Linked DNA regions of Homo sapiens: regions 2 and 3 are each linked to region 1. The links come from fine-mapping of genetic effects on gene expression. A gene starts in region 1. Each other region holds a variant in brackets. All regions are shown on one strand. Distances are between the middles of the regions. Region 1 holds the start of TRNP1 (TMF1 regulated nuclear protein 1). Region 2 overlaps AHDC1 (AT-hook DNA binding motif containing 1). Region 3 overlaps LOC101928391 (a long non-coding RNA gene).

Region 1 (9,978 bases):
ACCGCACCCAGCCTGAATAAAGCCAGACGGGTGAGCTTCTAGAGGGGGCCCTGGAGGGTCAGGCAGGTGTGGGAGGTGCCTTTTGTTAGTTGGCTATGTGGTAATGGACATAGCACTAACTAGGAGCTGGGGTTCAAGTCTACATGTGTGTGCCCTGGCCAGGAAGCTTGATGAGGAGCAGTGGGACATCTGGAAGTGGAGGGAGGGGGCAGAGCTGCCTGTGACACCAGGACCAATCTCCATTTACTACCCTCTACTTCACACACACACACACACTAGCCAGTGTCGTCTCTAATTCTCTACTCACCCACCCCACCCCCAAATCGGGACAAGCTGATTACAAATAAATCCTGGAGAAAGCCAAAACTGTGATGGCACCGAGCACTTTACACCATTAGCTAAAAGCTTCTCCGGACCAAGTGCCCCCTCCCATGCAACCCAGAAAACAAATGGTCCTGGCTGCAGCCCAGCACCAAGGCCTGAGCTCAGCTCTTTCCAAGATGTCCTGTCCTCTCTAAGCCTCTAGACCCCAAATGACCCAAGTGGCTTTGGAAGGTGTTCCCTGTTTGGAAAGACCAGAGGATGGCATTGCCCCCTTCATTACTTCCCTGGGGTTCCCTAACTTTGTCAGAGGCTCTGAGACTCCCTCCTGAACCTCCCTTCCCCAGCTAAGAAAGGGTTCAGGAAAGCCTTGCTGTTAGCCGAGAAACCAGCCAAAAAGTTTGGTATCCAGGGAGAAGGGCTGATGAGGGAGGATCCCATAAGGGCCCCAAGCCTCAGCCTATCAGAGCAGTGCACCTGACCCTCCCAGATTCCTGTGGAAGGAAGCATCCTCCCCACTTCACCCCATTCCCAAGCCCTGACTCAAGGAGGGACTGAGGAAAGAGGCCCAGAGAGGGGGCAGAGTTGTTCTAAGTCACAGAGCAGACAGGATCCAGAGGACAACTCTCCCTAGCCCCTGCCCAGGGTACTGTGGGAGGTGCACACACAGGCCAGGGACCTTGATTCTTCCCTCACTGGCATGTGACCTTGAGAAATCCCCTCTCCACCCTGCAAAAGTAGGACTTTAAATTAGCTCATGGCTCTATCAGCAAAAGCAGTGCCTGTTTCCAGGTGTGAGTTAAAATAATACATTATCAGCCAGGTGCAGTGGCTCACACCTGTAATCCCAACACTTTGGGAGGCCGAAGCGGACAGATCACCGGAGGTCGGGAGTTCAAGAACAGCCTGACCAACATGGAGAAACCCGGTCTCTACCAAAAATACAAAATGAGATGGGCATAGTGGCACATGCCTGTAATCCCAGCTACTTGGGAGGCTGAGGCAGGAGAATCGCTTGAATCCGGGAGGTGGAGGTTGCAGTGAGCCAAGATCGCACCATTGCACTTCAGCCTGGGCAACAAGAGCGAAACACTGTCTCAAAACAAACAACAACAACAAAAAAATTATCTTTCCATGATTTAGTGAGGAAGAAGAAGGACCTCTGCCCTGGGTTAACGTCACCACAGCCCCTCTGGGAGGTTAAGAGATCCACTTCGCAGACTGATAAGTGAGAGTGAAATTAACTCAGCTGGTGAGCAGCAATGTGGTAGCCAGGTCATTCACAGTGGGGACAGAGGAATGGGAGACTGAAGGGCATCTGGACAGGAAGAGAAGCAGATCTCACCTCAGATCTGGCTCTTTAAGGCCCCCCTTTCTGGAAGCTGATACCACACCTGCCCCCTTGGGGCCTGTTAAAGGGTATCACCTGGTTCCAACCTGGCCGAGCCATCTTAGTAACAGGTTGGGAGTTAAGCCTCTAGGTTCTGCTATGTAAGGATCCCTGGGTGAGCAGGTGCCAGACATCCTGTCCTGGTTATGTGAGTCAGGCTGTAATTTTTGCGAACCTGCATGACGGCATAAGAAAAGCTGTCTCCTAGAAGAAGAAGGGCCTAAGTATGAAGAGAACAAATCCTAAACCTCTCTGGGATTCCGTCTCCCCAAAGGTGAAACAGGCCTAGAGGGGGAATTCAGTGGTACAGCCCTGTGCCAGCCTCCACCCCATCCTGGGGCCTCATTATTCTGTCCTCCCGAAGGCACGGAGCTGGGCGGCGCCAGGAAGCAGCATCCTCAAGGGCAAGACTGCTCACAGCTCCGAGGGGCCCGGGAAAGGCCACGCAAGTGGGGGTGAGGATGGGGGGTGCTGCATCCGTGCGGCAGGTTCCAAGTGGTAAAAGTTTGCCGCCAACCCGTTCCTGGGATCTGAGCCCCCTCAAGAGTCCAACTCTTATAATGGAGACTTGATGCTACCACCTCTCACTCTCCAGATGGTCGGGAGAGGCGGCAACAGAAAGTGGCAGCTTTACTAGGGACCCAGCAGACGCCAGAAGCTCCAGGGAAGGGAGTTCCCGGGCCCTGGACCAGCCCCCCACACGCCATGACCGACCCTCGAACGCACCAGCCGCTAAGACCGCACCTCAGCCTCCTCTACTGGGCCCCTGGCCCCCAACTGCCTCTTCCTGCGGATCCGTAGTCCTTCCAGCCGGCGTCCGCGATCAGTCGGTCGGTCGGCACCTCGGCGAAGCTTGTCGGGGTGGCCAGGGGTCCGGGCGTGGAGGTCAGCGCTGCGGGGAGGCGGGGCCGCGGGGCGGGCTGCGGCGGAAGGGCGAGTCGGGCTCGGGGCCGTGGCCGCGCCGCAGTCGCCCGGCACCCCAGGGCACGCAGCCGCCCAGGCCCAGCGCCGAGGCCAGCAGCGCGGGGGGTCGGCCGCGGCGGCCGCGGCGCGGGCCCTTCTTGAGGCGCGACCCGTGAGCCGCCAGGTAGAGCTCGGCCTGCGCCACGCCGCCGCTCAGGCGGCTCAGGCTCTCCGCGCGGTGCGCCAGGCGCAGCTCGGCCGCCAAGAAAACGCGGTGCAGCTGCAGCACGCGGCTCTCCAGCTCCGACACCAGGCGCCGGCGGCCCTCCACCTCCAGCAGCCGCCGCCGTGCTTCGGCCAGCTCCAGCGCGCGGCCCCCCGCCCCCGCAGCCGCGCCAGAGCCCCCTCCGGGGCCGGCGAGCCCCGCGATCCCGCTAGCGCCCTGGCGCCAGCGCTGCAGCTCCTGGTCCTCGGCCGCGCCTGCTGAAGCCCCAGCTGCGTCCGGCAGCGGCGGGGACTGACCCGGGGTCGGGGTAGGAGTCAAGGTCGGAGTTGGGGGCGGGGGCTGAGAGGACGGCATGGGATCCCAGGGCGGCGGCGGCGACCTCTGCTCTGCCGTCCCCTCCTGGGCCCCCGGGCCGCAGGCGCTGATGCGGCAGCCCGGCATCCCCCGCCCCCCACCGGCGGTCTGCGGCTGTAGGTGCGCAGGGAGGATGACCACAGCACACCCGAACAGCTAGACACGGCCACAGCCCCCACCCCAGAGGCGCGCCCGCCGTCCGCGCATCTTATAGAACACGGGGCGGAGCGACGGGCGGCACAGCCAATCAGAGACAGGCACGCCCTGAATCCGCCCCGCCCCCCCCCCCCCCCCCCGCGCTCTGCACATTCAGGGCATTCCCCAAACCCTTCAGGTCCTGCCCTTCGCCGGATTCTGCTCCGCTAGGGCATCCGGTCCCCTTTCGCCTCTCCCCAAATTTTGGGTGCAAAGGGAGCCTCATCTTCCCTGGTTTGGCCCCTCAGAGTCATAAGCTCTGGTAGCTGGTGTTTAGAAATTCACGGAATCCGGTCTCCATCCGGGGGAGGGTCTTGCCTAAGGCCTCTGTGCGAAGAGAGCCTGGGCTAGAACGCAGGAGGCTTGACTCCTTGTGCCGTGCTCCTCCCACACCTCATGCTGCCCTTGGCCGAATCAGTTCTGCCCGGTCTCTCCTGGGCCATAGGGCTCTCAAGGACCCCCTTTCCCACCTCACTAGGGCAGTGGAAGGGTTAACGCAGAGGGGCGACTGCCGTCCTGGTGGGACGGGGATCTAGCTGGACTGATTCCACGATAGGTAGAGCGCTTTATTCGCAGAACAAATACCTCAGCGCTGCCGCTGAGCCTGCAAACCTTGGTGGCATCACAGAGGAGCCCCGGACCCCACGGTGTGCAAAGTTCTTTCCCTGCCCCGGCTCGTGTTTACTCCTCCCAGCCGGTGTTCCTACACATTTTAAAGAGGGGGAAACTGGCCGGGCGCGGTGGCTCACGCCTGTAATCCCAGCACTTTGGGAGGTCAAGGCGGTCGGATCACCTGAGGCCAGGAGTTCAAGACCAGCCTGAGCAACATGGCGAAACCCCATCTTTACTAAAAATAGAAAAAAATTAGCCGGTCGTCGTGGTAGGCGCCTGTAATCCCAACTACTCGGTAGGCTGAGGCAGGAGAATCGCTTGAACCTGGGAGGCGGAGGCTACAGTGAGCCAAGATCGCGCCATTGAACTCCAGCCTGGGCGACAGAGCAAGACTCCGTCTCAAAAAAAAAAAAAAAAAAAAGCCGGGGGCGGGAAGGGGGAAGGGGGGTGTGCGGGGGCGGGGAACTGACTGGCGGGGCGCGGTGGCTCCGCCACCACTTTGCGAGCCCGAGGTGGGTGGATCACCTAAGGTCAGGAGTTCTAGACCAGCCTGGCCAACATGGTGAAACCCCTGTCTCTACTGAAAATACAAAAAAATTAGCCAGGTGTGGTGGCGCACCTCTGTAGTTCCAGCTACTCAGCAGGCTGAGGGAGGAGAATCGCTTGAATTCGGGAGGCAGAGGTTGCAGTGAGCAGAGATTGTGCCACTGTACTCCAGCCTGGGCGACAGAGCAAGACTCAGTCTCAAAAAATAAATAAAAATAAAAAATAAAGAAGGGGAAACTGAGACCCTGAAGGGCAGTAGTGCTTTGCCCAATGTCTTATTGACGACTGGTGGCTGAATCCAGATTTTTGAATCTGGACAGAAATGCACGAGCTCAGCCATTCATGCCCTCTGGGGGCTCAGATACCTGGGTCTAGTCCTCTTGGTGGAGGGACGTTCTTTATGTGGGACTTTATCTGACACTTCTCATCTGGCCCTGACAAAATGATAGAATGGAACCCTGCCCACTTTTCCCCCAACAGAAATGACCCTGCCATACCAAACACTGGCTCAGACACCATGGGCCTGCCTCAGTTTCCATCTACTTGAAGGTGGCATCAGAGATGGGAGGTCTCTGTGGTGGGTGGGGGCAAGGGCCAGGGGTCCAGAAACCAGCTCTGAACCCGATTGGGAAGGACTGCAGCAGACCCTGGGCTCAGGAGGACCTGCGGAAGGTATGGCCAGTGTGACTGCTGAAGCCTGAAGAGGAGGCAGATGGCGTGCTTGCATGATGTGCAGGATGATGATAGAGCCTCATCCTCCCCCCATGAACACATGTTCTCTAACTGCTTTCAGGTGTCTTAGAGTGAGTGAGACTGAGTGATGGGGACTCGTGGGCGAGACAGTTGGGCTCCAAAGAGGCAGCTCAGAAGCGGCTGGGAGAGGAAGGCGGGTGGGTGAGAGGCGCCAGGCTCAGTGAAGAGGAAGGGTGGAGGGGTTGGGGGAGGGAGGAGGTCAGAAGCAGGGTGCCCAGTGACCAGGGGTGGTGGAGACTCAGTGAGGGGAAGGGGAGGGCTTGGGAGGATGACTCAGTCAGAGGGGAAGAAGAGCTGTTCAGTGACTGTGCTGGGGCTCAGTAGGGGGAAGGGGCTGAGTGTGTGCAAAGGTGCTGGCGGAGGCTCGCCATGGGGGAAGGGAGGTTCAGTGAGGGGCATGGGAACTCAGAGAGTTGGAGGGGCTCAGTGAAGATGAGGGAGGCTCAGGAGCTACCAGGTTGCCCCCAGCAAGGAGGCTTGCCCTGCTGAATGATGGTGTCCCTTTGAACAGTCTCTTTTGTGTCATGCAATCATAGGTCTTTCTCAGGGCAGAAGCCCCTCATTGCCATGGTGGTGGGGAGATGGACAGGTGTTTTGCCTTCATGAGGCAGATCACTGCTCCCAACTCCTCAAGGACTGATTCAGGGGAAGAAGACTAGGACTTATCTCCACCCCCAACCACTGGCCAGATCCAGAGAACCAGTCAGACCCGGGTTGAAAACCAACACACACTGCCCATCTGGGTGACCTTGGGCAAGTAATTTATCTGAGTGGGAGAAGATGCACAGTATATATTTATTGAAGGAATGAATGTTCTCTGTCTCGTGATATCATCCCTAAGAAAGGGAGATTGATAGCCGTCTCTTCCTGATGAGAAACCAAAGTCCAGAGAAGTGAAGAGGCTTGCCCAAGTTCACACAGCAGGTAAATGGCCAAGCAAGAATTCAAACACAGATATGACCCACTCCGTGGTCACTCCTTACCTCCCTGTTCTCTGACAATGCTCCCTGTTGCTATCCTCTGTGGTATTTCCTATGAGTCATATGTATGTATTTGTTTATTGTTTAATTATTAATAGTCTCTCCCCCTTGACTGGTTTTGCTTATCACTAGAATCCCCTGAAGTCAAGCAGAGTGCCTGGCCCCATAAAGCACTCAATAAACATTTGTCTGAATTGAAAAATTTAGGCCGTGCACAGTGGCTCACGCCTGTAATCCCAGCACTTTGGGAGGCTGAGGCAGATGGATCACCTGAGATCAGGAGTTCAAGACCAGCCTGGCCAATGTGGTGAAACCCCATCTCTACTAAAAATACAAAAATATGGCCAGGGACGGTGGCTCACACCTGTAATCCTAGCACTTTGGGAGGCCGAGGTGGGTGGATGATGAGGCCAAGAGATCAAGACCATCCTGGCCAACATGATGAAACCCCACCTCTACTAAAAATACAAAAAATTAGCTGGGCGTGGTGGGGCAAGCCTGTAGTCCTGACTTCTCAGGAGGCTGAGGCAGGAGAATCGCTTGAACCCGGGAGGCGGAGGTTGTAGTGAGCTGAGATCATGGCACTGCACTCCAGCCTGGCGACAGAGCGAGACTCCATCTCAATAAATAAATAAATAAATACAAATACAAATACAAAAATTAGCCAGGCGTGGTGGTGCACATCTGTAATCCCAGCTACTCAGGAGGCTGAGGCAGGAGAATTGCTTGAACCTGGGAGGCAGAGGTTGCAGTGAGCTGAGATTGCGCTACTGCACTCCAGCCTCGGCAACAGGAGCAAGACACCATATCAAAAAAAAAAAGAAAGAGAGAGAGAGAGAGAGACGGGGGTGGGGGGAGACAGAGAGAGAGAGAGAGAGAGAGAGAGAGAGGAGAGAAGAGGAGAAGAGAAGAGAAAAGAAAAGAAAAGAAAAGAAAAATTAACCGGGTGTAGTGGTGCATGCCCATAATTCCAGCTACTCGGGAGGCTGAAGCAGAATCACTTGAACCCAGGAGGCGGAGATTGCAGTGAACCAAGATCACACCACTGCACTCCAGTTTGGGCAACAGAGCAAGACTCCATTAAAAGAAGAAAGAAAGAAAGAAGGAAGGAAGGAAGGAAGGAAGGAAGGAAGGAAGGAAGGAAAGAGAGAGAGAGAGAGAGAAGGTAGGAAAGAAGGAAGGAAGGAAGGAAGAAAAATAAAAATAACACAAGGGTAGGCCGGGTGCGGTGGCTCACTTCTGTATTCCCAGCACTTTGGGAGGCAGAGGCGGGTGGATCACGAGGTCAGGAGTTCAAGATCAGCCTGGCCAAGATGGTGAAACATCTCTACTAAAAATACAAAAAAGTTACCCGGGCATGGTGGCGGGTACCTGTAATCCCAGCTACTGGGGAGGCTGAGACAGAGAATTGCTTGCACCCAGGAGGGAGAGGTTGCAATGAGCTGAGATTGCGCCACTGCACTCCAGTCTGGGCAACAGAGAGAGACTCCGTCTCAAAAAAAAGAAAGAAAGAAAGAAAAGAAAACACAAGGGTAGAGCTTGCTGAGAATGGAGAGTTCCCTTCTCCATTCATTCATTTATTCTTTTTTATTTTATTTATTTATTTATTTATTTATTTATTTTTTCTGAGACGGAGTCTTGCTCTTGTTGCCCAGGCTGGAGGGCAGTGGTGCAATCTCAGCTCATTACAACGTCCGCCTCCCAGATTCAAGCGATTCTCCTGCCTCAGCCTCCCGCATAGCTGGGATTACAGGCATGAGCCACCACGCCTGGCTAATTTTGTATTTTTAGTACAGACAGGGTTTCTCCAGGTTGATCAGGCTGGTCTCGAACTCCCAACCTCCAGCGATCCGCCCGCCTCTGCCTCCCAAAGTGCTGGGATTACAGGCGTCAGCCACTGTGCCCAGCTTCTTGTCAGCTTTCTTAACTGGCCTGAGCACCACACTCTCGGAGTGGATAGGAGCCACAGTCTACCACCTATTAGTGCACATCCAGCCCAGCAAACACAACACCTGGAATGAAGAAATCCATCCATAACTGTAATGATTATTGTGTTTTTCTGATCTTTATAAAAGTTATAGAGTACATTCCTTTTGTAGAAAATCTGGAAGACAGATAAAATACTAAAATACTGAAAAAGAATAGGCTGTCAGGCAAGGTGGCTTATGCCTGTAATCCCAGCACTTTGGGAGACTGAGGCAGGAGGATCACTTGAGCAACTAGGAGTTCAAGACCAGCCTGGGCAATATGGTGAGACCTCATCTCTATGAAAAATAAAAATAAATTACCTGGGCATGGTGGTGCATGCCTGTAGTCCCAGCTATTCAGGAGGTTGAGGTGGGAGGATCGCTTGAGCCCAGGAAGTCGAGGCTGCAGTGAGCTGTCTCTTGCCACTGCACTCCAGCCTGGGTGACAGAGCAAGACCTCATCTCAAAAAATAAAAATAATAGGCCAAGCACAGTGGTTCGTGCCTATAATCCTGTACTTTGGGAGGCCAAGATGGGAGGATTGCTTCAGTCCAGGAGTTTGAGACCAGCCTGGGCAACATAGCAAGACTCTCTGTCTCTATGAAAAATTTAAAAAATTAGCCAGATTTGGTGGTGCACGCCTGTAGCTACATGGGAGGCTGAGGCAGGAGGACCCCTTGAGCCCAGGAGTTTGAGGCTGCAGTGAGCAGCGTCTGCACCACTGTACTCTGGCCTGGGAGACACAGAAAGACCCTCTCTCTCTCTTTTTTTTTTTTTTTTTTTTGAGATGGAGTCTCACTGTGTCACCCAGGCTGGAGTGCAATGGTGCGATCTCAACTCACTGCAACCTCCGCCTCCCAGGTTCAAGCAATTCTCCTGCCTCAGCCTCCTGAGCAGCTGGGATTACAGGCGCCCGCCACGACACCTGGCTAATTTTTGTATTCTTAGTATTCACCCAGCCGACCCTGTATCTTTAAAAAAAAAAAAAGAAAGAAAACAAGAAGAAGAAGAAAAGAAAAAGCCTGGGCGTGGTGGCTCACGCCTGTAATCCCAGCACTTTGGGAGGCCGAAGCAGGTGGATCACTTGAGGTCAGGAGGTCAAAACCAGCCTGACCAACATGGTGAAACACCATCTGTACTAAAAATACAAAATTAGCCAGGTGTGGTGGCGCACGCCTGTAATCTCAACTACTTGGGAGGCTGAGGCAGAATTTCTTGAACCCAGGAGGGAGAGGTTGCAGTGAGCCGAAATCACATCATTGCACTCCAGCCTGGGCAACAAGAGCGAAACTCCATCTCAAAAAAATTTAAAAAAGAAAGAATAGAGGAAAGGAGCCTGAAATCAGAAAGACTTATGTTTGAATCGAAGTTCAGTCCTTTTCTAGCTATGCAACCCTGAGAGAGGCACCTTTGTTCTCTGAACGTCAGGGTTTTCATCTGAGAAGTGGAACGGCTAATATCTATGGCATAGACAAGGACATTGACTCATGCAAGGATATGCCCAAGATCTCACATATCTATGGTCATATCTGGTCGTATCTATCTGACTCAAAACCTGTGGCCTGAGTTTGAGACCCTGAAAGAGAAGAGGCAGCTGAGATGGGACCAGGTTCCAGAGTCTGGTCCAGTATGTATCTATTGCCTCCAGGACAGCAGCCAGAAGAGACAGCCTTGTGGAGGGGACAGTGACTGTGGCTGTGGCCCCAAGCAGGATCCCCAATCCCCTCCATT
Region 2 (10,442 bases), 570 kb before region 1:
CTCTCTTTTGTCTTTTTCTTTCTCCTTGTCTCTCTCTCTTCCTGAGTCTCTTTCTTGCTGTTTTCCTTCCTCTGGCATGGTCGCCCTCTCTCTCCCTCTCTGGCTCTCGCCCCCTCCCTCCAGATCTTTTTCTCCTTCTGCCTCTTTCTGCCCTGTTTCTCTTGCCTCAGTGTCCTTCATCTTTCTGTCTCTCTTCCTGGATCTGAATCTCTGCCTTGATTTCTCCCGCCCCCTGTCTTTCTTCTGACTTTGTCCTTCTAAATACATATCTTTCTTTCAGAGCTGGGCCTTTCAGTTCTCCTTACTCTATTTCCTACCAGGTTGTTTCCTTCCCAGGCCTATGAAGATTGGGGAGCTGGTGCAGGGGGCAGGGCTCCAGAGTCACCCCAAAGGATCCCTCTTTTTAGTAGGGGCCAGATGTCCTGGAAGCCCCACTGGGCTTATGTGGTTGAACCTGAAATGGAGGGTGCAAGGTTGAAGAGCCTACAGAGAGTGTGGCACCAGGAAACAAGAGTGTGAGTCTGCCTTTCCAGGGTTTTAGGGGATGGGCTCCATCCATCTAGTCTACCTTCCACTAGCCCAGGGTAGGAACAGAAGATAGTTCCAGGAGCTAAACTGGCCCAAGAAGCTCTCTAGAGAACAGGCCTCACTGATTCTTGGGATTTGTCCCTTCCCTTGCTAAAATGATGGCAAGTTCAGACTGTGCCTCAGTTTCCCCAGATGGTATAGGGATACTATCCTTGCTTCATGTCTGACTTCTTTAAAGTGCTTTGAGTTCCTGGAACAAACTCAAAGTTATGAGGAACAAGGAAAGACTAGAGTGACTCCCGCCCCTTGCTCACCAGCGCCGGGGGACACCAGACAGAATGTTTGTCCAGGGCATGGGTGGAATCAGGGTCCTGTCTCCTTAAGGGTTGGGTGGAGGACAGTGCCTCGCCTCCCTTCAAGACTGGCAGCCCCTGCTGTCTGGCCCGCCCTCCCAGTCTGGGCAGTGGCCTCTGTCCTTCCTCTCTCGCCCCTCTTCATGGAATGAGCTTGGAGTCGTGGGCAAACAGGCCCTGGGGTAGGGGAGTCAGGCCTCACCTCTGGGTGTGGTGAGGCCTGGTCAGGCAGACCGTTCTAGGATCCTGGGGTCTGGGCACTACTCACCAAGGGGCCAGGCGGGGGAGTAGGGGTGCCTGGGGGAGGCAGGTTGCACGCAAGGCATGCTGGGCCCCCTCGGCGGGTGGGTGGGGGGAACAAAGCTGGCATCGAGGCCTCAGCTAAAATTAGCCGCTTCCCTGCGCGGGAGCGAGCATGCCTGCCAGCCGCCCAGATCGCCGCTGCCTCGGCAGGCCATCTGTCGCCACGCTTTACTCAGTCCCCCAGGGCCCCCCAGCTCCAGCCACCCCCAGGGGCTAGGGGGACTCTGCTCTGAGGCTGTCCGTGGCCAGGACTCTAGGCTCTTGTGCTGTCGTGCTGTGTGACCTCAGGCTAGGCCTTTCCCTCTCTGGGCTCCTGTAAAACGAGGGGCCCTAGACACTGACATCTCAGGTCCTCTAGTCCTTCCAAGCACCAGGTGCTGCTGCTGGTCATGATGGGGTGGGAGGTGGGGTGCCTCCCTCCCCTTAGAGCCACTCCTCTTGTCCAAGCTTTGGGCCAAGTGGGGTTTAGGGTAAAGGTAGGGCATGGTGGACTCCTATCAGATTCATTGGTCTTCATCGGGCGGCAGGGAGGCACTGCATCCAACAACACCCCAACATCTCCCCTGTCCCCCTCCACACTTGACCTCCAAGCAGTCTTAAAGAAACAGCTCCAGGTGGGGAGCCAGGAGATGGAGGCTGAGTTCAGCTGATCCTAATTTGCTCTGTGGCTTGGGCAAGTCTCTTAGTCTATTTCTCCCTCTCTTCAATCAGAAGCTTCCCATTTCTTGAGGAGCGGCCCACTTTATGCTACCTTGTCTCATGAGGCTGGCACTCTTGTCCCTTTTGTACAGATGAGGAAGATGAGGTTCCTTGTGAGGAAGCAGGGGAGCAGGGGAGGCGGGCTGGAGCCCTCTGTGGCCTGAAGTTCTGCCTGCTGGTCTCCAGCTTCAGCTTCTTCTTTCTGACCCTGGCACTTCTCTCACTGCGGCCCCTTCCCCCCTCCCCGAAGCCAAAGAGGCTGAGCTGCTGCTCCAAGGTCACCCAGCTTGGCCCTGGAGGAGCTCAGACTGGAACCCAGGCCTCTTGGCTCTTGGCCTCCCTCACCACTATGGCCAGCAGGCTGGGCCTGTTCCCTGGGTGAGTCATGTTCCTGGACTTTGGCCTCCTTGTCCCCAGCTCTGTGGCCTGAAGTTTGGAGAGGGGGCCTTTGTAAGGAAGAAGGGCTCCCCTGGAAGCTATGGGGGTCTCAAGCCATTATCCCATACTCTTCCCACTGAGCACATGGTGATAGCAACCCCTAACCGCCCTACTCCCCACTGATCTCTAAGCAGTCTCATAGTAACAGCGCCTCAGGACAGCCCTCCCTCCACCACTCATTCAGCCCCCTCCCTAGATACACAACTACAGTGAATAAGAAATGGAGTGGAGTGAGGGCTGGGGGAGGTGGCATTTCCAGGTAGTCAGTGTGTCCAGGCAGCTTCCTCCCCAGCACTCCTCTCCCCCAGCACCCGCCACTGGGCGGGAAGCCACAGCACCTCCCCTCCTGGTGTCCAGAGGCCAAGGTCACACCAGAGCCCTGTGTGCCTTCACCTCCTCTGGGGCCAGTGGTGTTTGTCACTGGGGCAATGTGTGGCTGTGCCCGGCTCTGGCAGTGCTGGGGTGACATTCATGCCGTGTGAGCTGTGACGCCTCTGCAGGCAGAGGGACGGCACCACCCAGGCTGGTGACAGTGATGGGGGAGGGGTGAGGTGGGCTGTCACCTGTCCAAGGCAGCCGGGGAGGTGACATGTTGTGTACCCATCCCACAGTCTGCAGGGAGGATTCCCAGGCAGGGGCGAGGTTATGTCCCTGCCTCATGCTGTGTGGTGGGTGGAGGGGTCCATGCCTTCCTCACACCTGGAAGATGGGACTTGTCCCACGTGTGTGTGTGTGTGTGTGTGTGTCTTGGTCAGCTGTGTGACAGGTTCTGTGTGTGTGTGCATGTGTGTGTGTCTTGGTCAACTATGTGACAGGTTCTTTGTGTGGGTGTGTGCATGCATGCGTGCGTGTGTGTGTGTCTTGGTCAGCTGTGTGACAGGTTCTGTGTGTGTGTGCATGTGTGTGTGTCTTGGTCAACTATGTGACAGGTTCTTTGTGTGGGTGTGTGCATGCATGCGTGCGTGCGTGTGTGTGTGTCTTGGTCAGCTGTGTAACAGGTTCTCTGTGCATTAGTGGGTGTGGGGGTGCCTGGTTGCGTGTCAGTTATGCCACTGTGAGGGGTAACAGACGCCTGCCCCATGCTGTCGAGGGTGTGTCAGGTGTGCCCATCTCATGTTTGGAGGAAGCGACAGGTTATGTGCTTAGTTCATCCCGTTAGGAGGGTTGTCACCAACTTGTGCGCCTGTCTCTGGCTGTTGTGTGTGTGAGATGTCACCATGTGCCCGTCGCAGGCTGTTGTGGGGAGTGGCATGTGTGATTCTCTCATGCTGTTGGGAAGTTGTCAGTAACTTGGGAGCTCGTGTCTCACTCTAAAGAGACGACATGTTTTCTGGTGATACGGGGCTGGCAGCTGGTGGGGCCTTCCCATGCAGACCACAGAGCCCCAAAGGGCTGGCCAGAGGAAATGCTTAGGGCCCTGAGCAGAGGGACAAGTGGGAGCTGGGGGGTGCTCAGTCCCGCATGATCTACCCTCTCACCCATATGTCAGCCCGTGGGACTGTTCCCCAGGGGGAGGGACCCAGCATTCTTCAGATGGTGTGGAGAAGGGCCTTTAGGGCCAGGGCAGGTGTGTGTCTGTGAGGTGGGGCACCAAGGCAGGGTTTGCATGGGAGGCAGGGGGCTGTGTCCCTGAGGGCCTGGGGACCCTATTTCCTGCCTCTCCTGCCCCTGAAACTGTTAAACTAATTAAGGCTCTGGAGCCACAGGATTAATCGGGGCAGCTCTGCGCGGGCCGGGAGCTCAGGTAGTCAGTCGATCAGTGCACCGGGGAGGATATTGGATTTCTGAACCGCAAGTCAGCACTATTCGGGCCTGTTATCTCTCCCAGGCTCGGGGGTCAGGAGGCGGGAGGCTTGGCGCACTGGCCGCCCCCGCCGAGCCAGCTTGGGCGCGTCCACTCCCCCTGCCCACACATCCCAGCTCTGGCCTGTCTACTGCCCACACAGGCCTCCCCTCGGCCCTTCTCCCCGGCCCACCCTGCCTCTGCTTCGCTGCCTCTTTCTCAGGCTCCTGCAGAAACCCCTGGTCCCTGCTCTCTCCTGCCTTTCCCATCTCTGCCTGGCTCGCTTCCCCCGTGCCTCTCTCCCCTCTGGGGCTCTTCCTTGGTCCTTACTGGCCTCAGACTCACTCTGGGCCTGAGCTACCCCCTCCCCTCAGCCTCTGACAAGGTCTCACCCGCCTCTCTCTACCTTCCTCTCCATCTCCCTTCTTCCATGAGCCCCTCATCACCAGTCCGTCTCTGCTTTTGTGTTTGTGCGTGCCCGTCTTCCAGTTTCTGTCTTTCTCTGTCTCTCTGTCTCTGTTTCTCTCCCCATGTCTCTGTGTCTCCCTGTGTATCTTTCTCCCTCTTCCTCTCTGTCTTTTCCTCTCTCCCTCTGGCACGCTCTCTCTCTCTGTCTTTTCCTCTCTCTCTCTTGTGTGGTCTCGGCTGGTGTCTGCAACCAGAACAAATCTCCCCCAGCCAACACCCCCTGAACAAGGAGGCCAGAGCAGCTAATGGGAAACATGTGATTCTGCCTTGCGCCTGGAGCACCGTGAAGGGAGCCTTAGTCCCAGCCCAGCCCCTGCACCCCTCCTTGCTGTGTTCCCCCCACCACACTGTCCTCTGCCTCCCAGCAGCTCCCCCAGCCTGTGTGGGCACTGTTGGAAGTTCATTTACACTGGGTGGGGGCCTGACGTTTATCTGCTGGGGAGTATCAGGTTGTGGAGGGGCTAAGGGCAGCTTTGCTCCTGAAGTTCCCCCCCAACACTCAGGGCCAGGCAGACCCCATGCAGACTCCTCCCACCCACCACCACCATATGTAGGAGAACAGGGCCAAGATGAGCCGAGCTGTGGGGGCCTGAATGGGGGGCAGCCAATCTACCCCCACTGGAGGGCTCTAGGGCCACCCAGATTTCCATCTTTTCCTTCCTCCTGGGCCTCTGGGGAGCTGCAAAGGTGGGGGCTCCCCAAGGGCTTGGGAGCTGCCGGGCTGTGTTTCTGTGCCCACCCAACCACAGGGAAAGGGGGGACAGATCAGAGGAGGGAGGCTCTGGCAGGTTGGAATTCTCCTTCTCTGCCTGTGGATAAATTGTCCCTAATCCAGGCTTGGGGAGTTGTCTGGCTCCTACAGAGAGAGAGAGAGAGGAAGGGAGGGAGAGGGAGGGAAGAGGGAAGCAGGCACACACAAACACAGTGACACAGACACACACACACCGTCTCACAAAGGGTATCTCACATGCATGCACACACGCACTCACACACTGAGCCCTTCACAAAGGTACCACACAAACCCTGGGGCACCGTTGTGCTGACACACCATGGCACACAGACCTGCTCACACATGTTGACGCTGACACACGGCCATACTGGCACAATCATACAGTGACATAGCACAAGGACCCACTGACATACACAGAGACACGCTGTGGTACACAGACACACAATAAGGTCACACAAATCCACACATGCATGGACACACACACGAGCACATACTGACCCATGGTGAAAGAGACCCACAGGGACACTGTGGCCAGTCACACTGCCACACCATGAC[C/A]CTGAAAACCCAGAGAAAGGCAGAGGTGGGAGGGAGGCAACACTGATCCACAGTGACACCAGTGCCTGCAGTCACAGGCCTCGAGATTGGAAACCTGCAGGGACAGCAGAGGATCAGCCTCACGCCCCCACCCCCTGCCAAACACACATCCAGAGAGCTCTGAGACAGGCAGGAGCCGGTTTGGCTCCTGACACAGCGAGATGCAGAGAGCCAGGCAAAGCGTGTGCACACCCAGGCATGCTCACACCCAGCCACAGCTGGGCTCACCTGGCTACACACAGGCACACATGCACCCCTGTGTCCTCACACACAAACAGGCTTAGCTAGACTCACACACACACACACACACACACAAAACGAATAGAAATAAACGTGAAAAGTGCACATACCCACATGTATGACTGAAGACACCAAATCCAGGCACACACTTAAGCTGGCATCACACATACACACACACAGCTGACCACAGCAGCCACAACTGAGCAAACGCGTGATCCCACACATGGACACGCTTAAGCCCACATGTACCCACACAGACGTACAGAAATACAGAGAAGCACACGAACAGGCTAAATAGACCCAGGAACCCACATACAGGTATATTTACCCAGACAGCTGAGCCTTGACAGATATGCATTTGCACAGGCAGAATCTCGATCACACGCATACAAACTCCCAGGCAACCAGAACCTATAAGCAATCCGTGAGGCCTGGTTCCCAGACCCCCTCTGGGCTCCAGTACAGACCTCGAGGAGGCAGACAAATGGGCAGGAAGCAGGGGGGTGGTGAGGAGGGCCATGGTTATTAAAGAAAACAAGAGACATAACTAGTTACTGATGGAAATGGGTAAACGCCAGCTGCATATACACCCTTGTGGAAATTCGCATCCACCATCACTCTGAACAGCACCTCTCACATCTGCATTGTCAGTAACCTGTTTGCATTATAGTTTCCCCAGATGTTCCTCCCCATTCATAAGATCTCACTTTTCCTATTTTATACATGAGAAAACTGAGAGCCAGAAAAGTTAACTGACTTGCCCAGAGTCACACAGTTATGAAGGTTGAGCCAAGGACTGTCAGACTCCCAAAGGCCAGGTTCCTTCCACTATAGTATATGTGCATGTATATGCATGTGTGTACATAGATGTGCAAAAACATTGCTTCTCAGTAGGAGCCTGGGGTTTCAAGAAACAGGTTTGGCTGGTGCAGTGGCTCATACCTGCAATCCCAGCACTTTGGGAGGCTGAGGCTGGAGGATTGCTTGAGCCCAGGAGTTCGAGACCAGCCTGGGCAAGATGGTGAGACCCTGTCCCTACAAAAAATTTAAAAAAAAAATAGCCAGGCATGGTGGTGCATACCTGTAGCCCCAGCTACTCGGGAGGCTGAGGTGGGAGGATCACTTGAGCCCAGGAATTCAAGGAGGCAGTGAGCTATGATCATGCCACTGCACTCCAACCTGGGCCACAAAACGAGATGAGGCCCTGTCTCTCTTATTTTTTTTTTTAAAAAGAGTCTCACAGTTCCCAGGTGGGATAATGCGATGAGGTTGGAGGTGGATGGGACTCCATGTAGGAGAGCTTCCTGGCTCAGTGTCCGCCTGCACCCTGCTGTCTGGCTGGCTTACCCTGTGTCCATGCTTATCTCTGTGGTGCTGTGTTTGCTTCCACAGATGGGAGCTTGCCTGATTGTCAACCCATCGGCCTGGACCCCAGAGCCCACCCAGTTGAGCGTGTGCAGAGGGCCCCGAGTGCGGGGCGACGCTCAGGCCGTTGCAGAGACCACCCTGGAGATGCTGATGAAGACAGGCCTTTCCTGCTGAGCCCAGCCTATCTTCGCAGCCTGCTCAGGTAACAGTGTGCAGGGAAGTCAGGCTTGGGCCTGGGCCACCCCCAGGAAGTGGGGATCAGGGGAACTTGCCTCCCAGTCCCAACAGGGATCCCCTCCCAGCTTAGGTCAAAAAGAGCTTCTTTACAGAATCAAAACATATTAACCCAACATTTACTCAAACTCCCCATTATCCAGAAAGGGGAACTGAGGCTCATGGATATACAGTGAGTCCTACCTCCTAGCCTGAGGACTCTTCCCTGCGCCTTGATGACCTGAGAGAACTGGGAGGAGAAAGGGGTTGTGACAATGACCAGGACTCAGGGCAGAGGTGGAAACCAGAGTGCCTGATGTGTGCAGCTGCTGACCCCCCCAGGACACCTCTCTACCGGAGTCTGTGGAAGCAGAGAACTGGGAGGCCAAGGTGAGGTGCTGGGAGGGCCTGGGTAGCCCAGGTATGCTAAGGTGCCCTTGCAGGACAGGGAGGGGGCGGGGGCAGTGGCAGGACCCACCTCCCTACTCCTGGCCCAGGTTAGCCCACCCAGGCTCAGGAGCTGCAGAGCCAGGTGAAGCTGCCCTGCCCTGCAGAGGCAACTCCCTGAACTGACACATGAAGCCTGCGGCTCCAGGAAGCTCCCTAGAGCTGAGCCTGCCTGGGGACCCCACCCTACTTCCAAAGGAGCATTCCTGGGGCCTGAGGTCTGGGGGTGGAGTCTCCTGGGATTGTAAGGGTGGGGAGGTACAGCTGTGGGAGGATGCGAGGCTGTGTGTATCCGAATGTAAATGTACAGGGCACTCAAGCTTGTGTGCAAGCAGGTGTGTGTGGAAGGCTCTGTCCTTCCGTGCACATGGGGTAATATACAAGAGTTGTGTAAGTGGACTGGGCTGGGGAGCGTTCAAGGGCTGTGTATGTGGTACCCGGAAGTATGAATATGCAGGATTCTGGGTGTGTACTGGGCAGGTGTGGGGATACTGTGTGTGCCACACTGGATGTCATGTGTGCAAGGGTGCTAGTGTACACTGGAGAGATGTGTGTATAGACAAGATCTGAATACACTGCGATGGTACGGTGTATGCACACGGGGATCTGTGTGTACACTGGCTAAGTGTGTGCTCAGGGTTCTGGGTGCACAGTGGGAGTGATGTGCACATGTGGCTCCATTTGTGCTTTGGAGGTGGGTTGGGCAAGCCTTGAGCTGAGCTGGGCTCAGCAGTGCCCAGCCTTGTGGCCAAATTGCTGAAGTCACTTCCTTTCCAGCAGCAACTTTCCAGGAGGAGGAGTTCTTCAGACCTGGGCGGGGAGCGGGGGGGCGTGGAACAAGGAGCTCTCTGGGGAAGGAGGTGGGCGGGGGTGAGAGGCTGCAGGGAAGGCCTAGTGGGGCTGGAGGAGGGGAGTCCTCCGGGAGACAGAAGGAAAGACAAGGACGGGAGTCTGGAAGGGCCAAGGGCAGGAGGGGAGGGGGGCGGAGCAGGGCGGGAAGCTTAGTCCCTGGGTGACCTCGGAGGGAGGAAGGGAGGGCCGCCGGCAGGGTGACCCTCGGGTCCAGCCAGAGCTGGCGGTGGCGCCCACACACCTGGCACCCAGGGCAGGGGGCTGGCAGGGGGCGGTTCTGGGGCAGACCTGCTTGCCAGGTGCCCTGTTCCAGGGAGGAAGGGGGTGGGCGAGGGTTGCACAAAGGAGCTCTGTGTGGCTGGGGGTAGGGTGGGGTGGGGTGTGCACTGCTGTGCTGTGCTGTGGGGGGGCCCTGATGGCCCCAGGGGGCGGGGCAGGGCCAGCTCCCCTTGGGGGCATCAGTGGCTCCAAGGGGACACCTAGTGGCGAGGGAGAGTAGTGCATCTAGTTGGATGGCTGTTGGTGGGAGGTGGTGACTAGAAGCTGAGAGGAGGATAGATTAGAAGTCAAAAATTAGAACTGATGGTTGGGACTAGGACCGTTGTAGGAGGCTGCAGGGGAGGGCGCTGAATCTCTGGACACCAAAGAAGTTTGATTTACAGAAGCCCAACCTAAATTCAGACACCAGCTTAATTGAATGAGATGGCTGTTTGTTCTTAAGGGCATAACTTAACCTCTCTGTGCCTCTATTTAAATGATGCCAAATGAGTGACAGCTGCCATTATTATTGCCATCATTGTTATTTGTATTATGATATTGTGCCTGGGATCAGGTTGAAAGAAGATATTCAGGTGTTACTGTGTGGGCAGGTAGGCGGCTGAAGGGAAGGAGGTGGACAGAGGTGATGACTAGTCCCTGAGGGACAGATCCTGAGAGATAAGGCCCCTGGAGGAAAAGGGAGGTGATGGGAAGGTCTCAGAGCAGCAGTAATGGCCCCTTTGATGCAGTGTTTTCCATTTGAGGACATCCCAGGGCCTTCGAACCAGGCTGGGAGGGAAATGGTGGGGGAGGAGGAGTGTGCAAGCTGGAGAGAGGGTCATGAGGCCGGAAGTGAGAGCTGGGGCTGGCAGCCTGGCTCCCCTGGGGAGGCAGTGGGTGGGGGAGGGGAAGGAGGGCTGGGGAAGGGGTGGGGTGGTCACAGCCACAGCCGGGGAGGGTGGGGCTGGGGACTCAAGGATGTGGGCTGGCGCTTCCCGGCACTGTGCACAGCAGGTTGGGGCCCCCAGCCCCCTCCCAACCAGCTGGTGTCCCTATGGGCAAGCTCAGACACACTGACCCAACAGCAGACAGGCAGACAGAAGTACCCCTTTGACTTTGTCCACAGACCAGGGCTAGGTGGTACCCTTGGGAGGGGTCCAAGAGAATG
Region 3 (10,442 bases), 76 kb before region 1:
AACCTCGGACCTCAGGTGATCCACCTGCCTCAGCCTCCCAAAGTGCTGGGATTATAGGCGAGAGCCACTGTGTCTGGCCTGGCCCACTGTTTCACACCTCTGCAGCCTTCACAGAAGCATGAGCTTCTCGGCAGGAGGCAATGTCCTGTAGGACACCCAACAGGTGCCCTTCAGTGAGACCCTGATTGGAAGTGCAGAGGGAGGATGGAAACGCAAGTCCAGCTCGACAACAAGGATCCATCGAAGGAGGACAAATTGCTGTCTTCCATGAAGGAAAATGTTTGTGTAACCAGGCAGTCACCAGCTGGCTGGCTGAGCCACAAGGGCTCAGGTGTGGCCACTCAGAGGTGATGGCAACCAGGTTGGCTTTGGTGAGGGAAGGTCGTACTGGAGAAGCTGGGCAAAACCTCCATGCCTGCCCCCATACCTGCCCCCATGCCTGCCTCCTTACCTGCCTCCATGCCTGCCTCCTTACCTGCCCCCATGCCTGCCCCCATACCTGCCTCCATACCTGCCTCCATGCCTGCCCCCCATGCCTGCCTCCATGCCTGCCTCCGTGCCTGCCCCCATACCTGCCTCCGTGCCTGCCCCCATACCTGCCTCCATGCCTGCCCCCATGCCTGCCCCCATGCCTGCCCCCATACCTGCCTCCGTGCCTGCCTCCGTGCCTGCCCCCGTACCTGCCCCCGTACCTGCCCCCATGCCTGCCCCCATGCCTGCCTCCATGCCTGCCTCCATACCTGCCTCCATACCTGCCTCCGTGCCTGCCCCCTTGCCTGCCCCCTTGCCTGCCCCCGTGCCTGCCCTCATGCCTTCACCCATACCTGCTTCCATGGCCACTTTGTTCGTGGCCCCATTGATTCGTTTCTTGACCAGCTGTGGCTTATGGGAGACTCACAGAACCCAGGACTTCACCACGTAACAGTATGTTCTCCTCTTGGGAAGCAGATGGAATTAACAAACGGTAACTATTAAGCAAGTTACACCAGGAGATAAATTACATATATTGCAACAAGGGGAAAGAAAACATGTGATGTTTGCAAAATTCTTAAGGGAATTTATCCTTGTCCTGGAAAAAAAAAAAAAAAAGCTGGCTTGCTGGTCAACATTTCTATTCGAAAATTAAGGCTCATCGTGCTTCAAGTAAGGTAAGGAAGTCTGGGATGTCACCCTGGATGCCACCTCAAATGAGGTAGAGTCACAAACTAGTGGTGACTAGTTCTGTCCCCAGGGAATAATGATCACATGTTGATTGGCATTATTAGAGCAGGATAATGGACCAGGAAAAACCCTGTAAATGGTCTGTATCCTCTTTTTATTATTATTATTTTATTTTTTTATTTTTTTGAGAAAGTCTTGCTCTGTCACCCAGGCTGGAGTGCAGTGGTGCAATCTCGGCTCACTGCAACCTCCGCCTCCCGAGTTCAAGCGATTCTCCTGCATCCACCTCCTGAGTAGCTGGGATTACAGGCGTGCACTACCACGCTCGGCTAATTTTTGTATTTTTACTAGACACGGGGTTTTGCCATGTTAGCCAGGCTGGTCTCAAACTCCTGACCTCAGGTGATCCACCGGCCTTGGCCTACCAAAGTGCTGGGATTACAGACGTGAGCCACCGCGCCCAGCGTGTATCTCTTATTCTAAAATTTAAGTCTCATTGCAATTGGAAGTATCAAAGGTAAGGCTACATGTGGTTGGGACATCTTCTTGAATTTTGTCCAGGTCCTAATAATAGAGAAAGGGAAGATGGTGACACCCACAGGTGTCACCTGACTGTTAAAAGCCTCTTTTGAGGGGGAGGGCTTTGGTAAACAGTCACTCGGGTCAAGCATTCTCTTGTAATCTGGGCCGTTTCTGAGAGTCCCACCACATAGTTGCTGACCCAGTGCCTCTGTTTCACCAACTTCCCCATCACCCCCTCCCAAGACTGGCCCACCCGGCAAGACCACCAGCCACTGCCCCGGCTGAAGTAGAGCCAGACCTTGGGCCACCTTTCCTTTCACACAAAGTGCAGCTCTTCATACAGGACCCCACGTGCCTGTCAGTGCTTCTGCCCAGGAGCTCCAGTCTTCACCAGTCTTTCTGCTTGCATCTACCCTGGACTGCTGCAGGCACGGGAAGGGCCTCTCCTCCCTCTTGCTGGTGGAGACAGGCAGCAGTGCCTCCGCAACTCATTTCAGGCTGGGGCTGGCTGCTGCGGAACCATCTGTTCCCAGGCTGTGGAGAGAGCTCAGAGTTGTCTGAGGAATGACCTCGAAGGCTCATCCTGGGTTGCCTGGCAACCAGCAAGCTGGGACCAGTGGCTCCCTGTCCATACAGGAGGGGCAGTGCCTGAACTCAGCTTCCCACGGAGGGAGTTGGGAGCCGAGGGAGATGGGAGTGCAGTGCCTCCGTACAGGCCCACGCTCCACCACACAGCTGGCACAAGCTCAAAATATTCATGCCCCACCCCATTGCCTAAGGTCATTCTCACACCCAGCCATGACAAGGGAGAACGTAGAGGGGCTTGCATCCCTGTGCTCCCTGATGCCTCCAGCCTCACACTGGACGCCATGTGCCTGTCACCGCTTCTGCCCAGGAGATCCAGTCTTCACCAATCTTTCTGCTGGCATCCACCCAGGCTGTCTGCCTGGCTCATGCTCGAGTGTTCAGTTGGTCTTAGGGACCTGTGCCCAAGGTATGGGCGGACGCAGGGGCTTTGGGAAGCTGGAGAAGGGACTCTGGGGAAGGAGCTGCCTGCTGAGAGGCTCAGCTGGGCTTCAGGACATGCCTGCGCTCAGCCCTCACCCACGTGTACTTTCTCCCCTTGATGACAGAAACCGTTGGGCACACCTGACTTTGTGGCAAGGTCAGACAGTGCTCAGCTCTGGTCACATGGTCCCCAGGTGCCGCAAGTCAGGTGTTCCATCTCCCCAGGGCCCAGGAGCTTACCAAAGGCATGAGCTGTTTCTCAGGAGAACCATGGTTTACAGAAGGGGGCGCAGCTTTGCACTAAAATCCTGGCTCCTGAGCTGAGATTGGCTTCCTGGGGCTGGTCCCAGGCTCCATAAGGGTAGCTCGATGTGCTGTAGACACTGGTAGCCTCAGATGATTCCAGCAAGCTTTGGAGTGAGCGCTGTGTGTGAGGGCAGGGTTACGAAGGCTGGGTCATCCTCACCATCCAGGGCCCTGGGGACAGGGCTACCTCCTCAGGGAGGGCTGCCCAGAGCCTGCCTCAGGGGATGGACACAGATGACCTGAGGCCCTGGGTGCTTGACCCCTGCCCTCCACCCTCACTGCCTCCCCCAAGTCCCCTGATCTCCACCTGCCTTCAGTTCACCCAAGGGTTCGGAATGGACTCCTGATTTTCTTAAGAGTTACATGAGGACACAGAATGAAGCCCTGTGGTCTCCAACTTGAGTGTGCCTTGAAGTCCTCTGCATGGAGAACGTGGTTAAAGGAGAACTGCCCAGGTCCCAGCTCTAGAGAGTCTAATTCAGCAGAGCTGAGTGGTATACCAGAATAGACATTTTATTTTATTTATTTTTTTTAGAGACAGGGTCTACTTCTGTCACCCAGGCTGGAATGCAGTGGCACTCACTTCAACCCCAAACTCCTGGGCTCAAGTGATCCTCCTGCCTCAGCCTCCCGAGTAGCTGGGACTGTAGAGAGGTGTGCGCCACCATGCCTAGCTAATTAAAAAATTTGTGTAGGGGCTGGACATAGTGGCTTACTCCTGTAATCCCAGCACTCTGGGAGGCCAAAGCAGACAGATCACTTGAGGTCAGGAGTTCGAGACCAGCCTGGCCAACATGGTGAAACCCCGTCTCTACTAAAAATACAAAAAAAGGCTGGGCGCAGTGGTTCATGCCTGTAATCCCAGCACTTTGGGAGACCGAGGTGGGTGGATCACGAGGTCAGGAGATCAAGACCAGCCTGGCCAAGATGGTGAAACCTCATCACTACTAAAAATACAAAAATTAGCTGGGCGTGGTGGCGGGTGTCTATAATCCCAGCTACTTGGGAGGCTGAGGCAGAGAACTGCTTGAACCCAGGAGGTGAAGGTTGTAGTGAGCCGAGATCACGCCACTGCACTCCAGCCTGGACGACAGAGCAAGACTCCGTCTCAAAAAAAACAAATGAACAACAACGAAAAAAAGTAGCCAAGCATGTGGTGGCGTGCATCTGTAATCATAGCTACTTGGGAGGCTGAGGCAGGAGAATCACTTGAACCTGGGAGGTGGAGATTGCAGTGAGCTGAGATGGCGCCACTGCACTCCAGCCTGGGCGACAGCCAGACTCTGTCTTAAAAAAAAAAAAAAATTCTTTTGTAGAGATGGGATCTTGCTATGTTGCCCAGCCTGGTCTCAAACTGCCAGGCTCAAGTGAGCCTCCCTCCTCAGCCTCCCAAAGTGCTAGGATGATAGATGTGAGCCACTGCACCTGGCCTATAATCTGTGTTTTAAACACGCTTCTCACCGTGATTCTGATTCAGGTAGTCACCCATCAACACTTTAAGAAACACTGGTGGAGTTTCTCAGGGTCAGGCAAGCCTGGGTCTAAATCCAAGTTCTACTCCAGCATTAATCTGGATTCATTTCAGCTACGAATGATGGATACCTGAATAACAGAAGCCTAAATGTGATAGAATTTTGTTGCTCTCATTTAAATTTTATTCTCTCTAGGAATACAGTCCAGGCTGGCACAGTGATGCCACAATCATTAGGGACCTAGACTTTTTCTGTCTTGTTGCTCCCAAATTCTCTGCATTTGTCTTTTGTCTCATGGCCCAAAATAGCTGCTCCAGCTCGAGCCATCATGCCTACATTTCATGCAGCAGGAAAGAAGAAAGGGGAGGAGAAAGACACATTGCCTCCGTTTAAGGGCAGTTCTTGAAAGTTGCATATGCCACTTCTACGTGCCAGAACTTAGTTATTTTGGCTAGAGCTACTGCAAGGGAGGTGGGAAAATGTAGAGATGTATTTAATTTTTTGTAAATAGTGACTTAAGGCACACAAAGAGTGTCTAAAGAAGCTGAAACAGGCTGGGCACAGTGGCTCACACCTGTAATCCCAGCACTTCGGGAGGCCGAGGCAGGTGGATCACCTGAGGTCAGGAGTTCGAGACCAGCTTGACCAACAGGGTGAAACCCCGTCTCTACTAAAAATACAAAAATTAGCCAGGCGTGGTGGCTAACGCCTGTAATCCCAGCCACTTGGGAGGCTGAGGCAGGAGAATCGCTTGAACCCGGGAGGCGGAGGTTGCAGTGAGCCGAGATCGTGCCATTGTACTCCAGCCTGGGCAACAAGAGCGAAACTCTGTCTCAAAAAAAAAGAAAGGCCAGGTGCGGTAGCTCACGCCTGTAATGCCAGCACTTTGGGAAACCGAGGCAGACGGATCACGAGGTCAGGAGATCGAGACCATCCTGGCTAACACGGTGAAACCCCATCTCTACTAAAAATACAAAAAAATTAGCCGGGCATGGTGATGGGCACCTGTAGTCCCAGCTACTCGGGTGGCTGAGGCAGCCGAATGGCGTGAACCCGGGAGGCGGAGCTTGCAGTGAGCCGAGATGGCGCCACTGCACTCCAGCCTGGGTGACAGAGCAAGACTCCGTCTCAAAAAAAAAAAAAAAAAAGGAAGCTGAAACAGAGAAAAACAGAGAAACAGAGAGAGGGAGAAGATGGTGCAAGCTAAA[C/T]ATAAAATCGGCTAACCTCAGTTGTGTACTTCCTGAGTGCCAGTTACAGTTCTAAGCCTAATTCCTCCCACAGTTCTGTGAGGTTGGACCTACTATTTTTTTTTTTTTTTTTTTTGAGATGGAGTCTCGCTGTATCACCCAGGCTGGAGTACAGTGGCGCGATCTCAGCTCACTGCAACCTCTGCCTCCCTGGTTCAAGCAATTCTCCTGCCTTAGCCTCCTGAGTAGTTGGGGTTACAGGCATGCGCCACCACAACCAGCTAGTTTTTTGTATTTTTAGTAGAGACAGGGTTTCGCCCTGTTGGTCAGGCTGGTCTTGAACTCTTGACCTCGTGGTCTGCCCACCTCGGCCTCCCAAAGTGCTGGGATTACAGGCATGAGCCACCGTGCCCAGCCTGGTCCTACTATTTCTTATCTTCTGGAACAGGGACACACACAACCCACCCCTGAACCCAAACTACACAGATTGAAACATGAGCTTTGCCTGCTTACTACCTGCATGACTCTGAGCAAGTTCTTTGCTAATGAAAGGGAATGTGGTGGGGCGCGGTGGCTCACACCTGTAATCTCAGCTCTTTGGGAGGCTGAGGCTGGCAGATCACTTGAGGTCAAGAGTTCGAGACCAGCCTGGTCAACATGGTGAAACCCCATCCCTACTAAAAATACAAAAATTAGCCGGGTGTGGTAGTGGGCACCTGTAATCCCAGCTACTCGGGAGGCTGAGGTGGGAGAATTGTTTGAACCCAGGAGACGGAGGTTTCAGTGAGTCAAGATCATACCACTGCACTGCAGCCTGGGCAACAGAGTGAGACTGTCTCAAAACAAACAAACGAAAATAAAAAAGGAATGGAAGCCATATTTAATTAGGACCAAACAAAATTCACCCCCTCCACCTGGGGATGTTGCCCCAACACCTTCACAGAGTCAGGCCTCTGCCAGCCAGGAGGAGGGGGCACACTCTGCCATGTCTATAAACTGGGTGTCGGCAGGGGTGCTCACGGGACTGAGGCAAGTTTTCCTCAAGCCCCATCCCATGCCCTGGGTCATGCGAAGCCCTCCCTCCATCCTCTGTACACTCCAGAGATTTTTGTTCTCAGGGAACTTCTAACTCTGGCTTCTTGTTCTGCTGAATTCTTAAGTCTGTGTGTGTTTGGAGCCTCGAGGTGCAATTGCTGGGCTCTGGCACTGCCAGTGGGTCTGCTTCTGACACAGTGCCGGGTACCACGAGGATGTTCAGTAAATGCTTGTTGAATTAATAATGACAACCATTATTTAATAAGTGCTTACCATGTGCCAGGCACCATGCTAAGGACTTTACATATATTCTGCCATTTGACCCTGACAACTGCCAAGATCTTCATTGTACCCACAAAGAAACTAAGACTCGGGCTGAATGTTGTGGCTCATGCCTGTAATCCCAGCACTTTGAGAAGCTGAGGCAGGAGGATCTCTTGAGGCCTGGAGTTTGAGACCAGCCTGGGCAACATAGTGAGATTCTGTCTCTACAAAAAAAAAAATTTTTTTAATTAGCCAGGCATAGGCATGGTGGCATGAACCTATAGTCCCAGCTACTTGGGAGGCTGAGGCGGGAGGATTACTTGAGTCCAGGAGTTCTAAGTTACAGTGAGTTATGATCATGCAACTGCAATCTAGCCTGGGCAACAGAGCGAGACCCCATCTCTAAACAAAAATAAATGGAGACTCACAAAGCTTAGGTACTTGCCAAAGGTCTCATAGCTGGTAAGTGTCAGAGCAGGAATTTGAATATGCAAATTTTTTTTTTTTTTTTTTTTTTTTTTTGCCCAGGTTGGAGTGCATTGGCGCCATCTCGGCTCACTGCAACCTCCTCATCCTGGGTTCAAGCGATTCTCCTGCCTCATCCTCCTGAGTAGCTGAGATTATAGGCTCATGCCACCATGCCCAGCTAATTTTTGTATTTTTAGTAGAGATGGGGTTTCACCATGTTGGTCAGGCTGGTCTTGAACTCCTGACCTTGTGATCCGTCCGCCTCAGCCCCCCAGAGTGCTGGGATTATAGGCGTGAGCCACTGCACCCGGCCTACAAATTCTTAACCATAATTATCAGGTGTCTACATCCCTCAAATGACCACCCCTCCCACCCCACTCATACTGCAACAGATCCAGGAGCCTAGGGTCCCAAGAAGGGCAGAGCCTATCTAAGGTGACGGCTCTGTGGGCTGACACCACAAGAATGAGTTTGTTTGTTTTTTTTTTTTTTTTCAGTGCCTTTATTTTTTATTTATTTTTTTTTTTTTTATTGATCATTCTTGGGTGTTTCTCGCAGAGGGGGATTTGGCAGGGTCATAGGACAATAGTGGAGGGAAGGTCAGCAGATAAACAAGTGAACAAAGGTCTCTGGTTTTCCTAGGCAGAGGACCCTGCGGCCTTCCGCAGTGTTTGTGTCCCTGGGTACTTAAGATTAGGGAGTGGTGATGACTCTTAACGAGCATGCTGCCTTCAAGCATCTGTTTAACAAAGCACATCTTGCACCGCCCTTAATCCATTTAACCCTGAGTGGACACAGCACATGTTTCAGAGAGCACAGGGTTGGGGATAAGGTCACAGATCAACAGGATCCCAAGGCAGAAGAATTTTTCTTAGTACAGAACAAAATGAAAAGTCTCCCATGTCTACTTCTATCCACACAGACCCGGCAACCATCCGATTTCTCAATCTTTTCCCCACCCTTCCCGCCTTTCTATTCCACAAAACCGCCATTGTCATCATGGCCCATCCCCAATGAGCCGCTGGGCACACCTCCCAGACGGGGTTGTGGCCGGGCAGAGGGGCTCCTCACTTCCCAGTAGGGGCGGCCGGGCAGAAGCGCCCCTCACCTCCCGGATGGGGCGGCTGGCCGGGCGGGGGGCTGTCCCCCCCACCTCCCTCCCGGACGGGGCGGCTGGCCAGGCAGAGGGGCTCCTCACTTCCCAGTAGGGGCGGCCGGGCAGAGGCGCCCCTCACCTCCTGGATAGGGCGGCCGGCCGGGCGGGGGGCTGTCCCCCCCACCTCCCTCCCGGACGGGGCGGCTGGCCGGGCAGAGGGGTCCTCACTTCCCAGTAGGGGCGGCCGGGCAGAGGCGCCCCTCACCTCCCGGACGGGGCGGCCGGCCGGAAGGGGGGCTGACCCCCCCACCTCCCTCCCGGACGGGGCGGCTGGCCGACCCCCCCCCGCCTCCCTCCCGGACGGGGCGGCTGGCCGGGCAGAGGGGCTCCTCACTTCCCAGTAGGGGCGGCCGGGCAGAGGCGCCCCTCACCTCCCGGACAGGGCGGCTGGCCAGGCGGGGGGCTGATCCCCCCACCTCCCTCCCGGACGGGGCGGCTGGCCGGGCGGGGGGCTGACCCCCCCCCCCTTCCGGACGGGGCGGCTGGCCGGGCGGGGGGCTGACCCCCTCACCTCCCTCCTGGACGGGGCGACTGGCCGGGCAGAGGGGCTCCTCACTTCCCAGTAGGGGCGGCCGGGCAGAGGAGCCCCTCACCTCCCGGACGGGGCGGCTGGCCGGGCGGGGGGCTGACCCCCCCCACCTCCCTCCCGGACGGGGTGGCTGCCGGGCGGAGACGCTCCTCACTTCCCAGACAGGGTGGTTGCCGGACGGAGGGGCTCCTCACTTCTCAGACGGGGCGGTTGCCAGGCAGAGGGTTTCCTCACTTCTCAGACGGAGCGGCCGGGCAGAGACGCTCCTCACCTCCCAGACAGGGTTGCGGCCCAGCAGAGGCGCTCCTCACATCCCAGACAGGGCGGCGGGGCAGAGGCGCTCCCCACATCTCAGACGATGGGCGGCCGGGCAGAGACGCTCCTCACTTCCTAGATGGGATGGCGGCGGGGAAGAGGCGCTCCTCGCTTCCTAGATGGGATGGCGGCCGGGCAGAGACACTCCTCACCCTCCAGACTGGGCAGCCAGGCAGAGGGGCTCCTCATATCCCAGACGATGGGCGGCCAAGCAGAGACGCTCCTCACTTCCCAGACGGGGTGGCGGCCGGGCAGAGGCTGCAATCTCGGCTCTTCGGGAGGCCAAGGCAGGCGGCTGGGAGGTGGTTGTAGCGAGCCGAGATCACGCCACTGCACTCCAGCCTGGGCACCATTGAGCACCGAGTGAACGAGACTCCATCTGCAATCCCGGCACCTCGGGAGGCCGAGGCCGGCGGATCACTCGCGGTCAGGAGCGGAGACCAGCCCGGCGAAACCCCGTCTCCACCAAAAAAAAACGAAAACCAGTCAGGCGTGGCACTGGGCAGGCTGAGGCAGGAGAATCAGGCAGGGAGGCTGCAGCGAGCCGAGATGGCAGCAGTACCGTCCAGCCTCGGCTCGGCATCAGAGGGAGACCGTGGAGGGAGAGGGAGAGGGAGAGGGAGAGGGAGAGGGACGAGTTTGTTTTTTTTTGAGAGGAGTCTCGCTCTGTCACCCAGGCTGGAGTGCAGAGGCGCGATCTCAGCTCACTGCAACCTCTGCCTCCCGGGTTCAAGTGATTCTCCTGCCTCAGCCTCCCGAGTAGCTGGGATTACAGGCACCCACCACCACACTCGGCTAATTTTTGTATTTTTAGAATAGATGGAGTTTCACCATGTTAGCCAGGCTGGTTTTGAACTCCTGACCTCAAGTGATCGGCCCACCTCAGCCTCCCAAAGTGCCAGGATTATAGGCATGAGCCACCGCACCTGGCCAAGAAAGGGTTTTTGTTTAGGCTTCAAACAACTGCAGGACATTTCTGTCCAATATCTTCTATTTCCTGCCCCCAGCTCCCCAACACC

What was found.
Region 2: its variant is fine-mapped to the expression of TRNP1 in tibial artery (GTEx, PIP 0.98).
Region 3: its variant is fine-mapped to the expression of TRNP1 in whole blood (INTERVAL, PIP above 0.99).

What each region holds. Positions count from the first base shown.
Region 1 is chr1:26,987,090-26,997,067 of GRCh38, reverse strand. It overlaps TRNP1 (TMF1 regulated nuclear protein 1), which reads right to left and starts at 3,376. Exons shown (of 2, transcript NM_001013642.3): 1 at 2,456-3,376. The coding sequence starts at 3,281. The coding sequence ends at 2,598. RefSeq lists silencers at 3,044-3,103, 3,134-3,463 and enhancers at 2,879-3,379, 3,604-3,763, 3,517-4,016, 4,017-4,518, 6,096-6,390.
Region 2 is chr1:27,555,970-27,566,411 of GRCh38, reverse strand. It overlaps AHDC1 (AT-hook DNA binding motif containing 1), which reads left to right. Exons shown (of 9, transcript NM_001371928.1): 4 at 7,529-7,706; 5 at 7,882-8,107. Among named protein-coding and RNA genes, the nearest start is that of AHDC1, 43 kb to the left of the region's middle. RefSeq lists enhancers at 2,811-3,538, 8,841-8,930, 10,442. The variant C/A (reference allele first, on the strand shown) is at 5,858.
Region 3 is chr1:27,063,053-27,073,494 of GRCh38, reverse strand. It overlaps LOC101928391 (a long non-coding RNA gene), which reads right to left. Exons shown (of 8, transcript XR_007065559.1): 8 at 7,910-9,883. Among named protein-coding and RNA genes, the nearest start is that of TENT5B, 55 kb to the right of the region's middle. The variant C/T (reference allele first, on the strand shown) is at 5,678.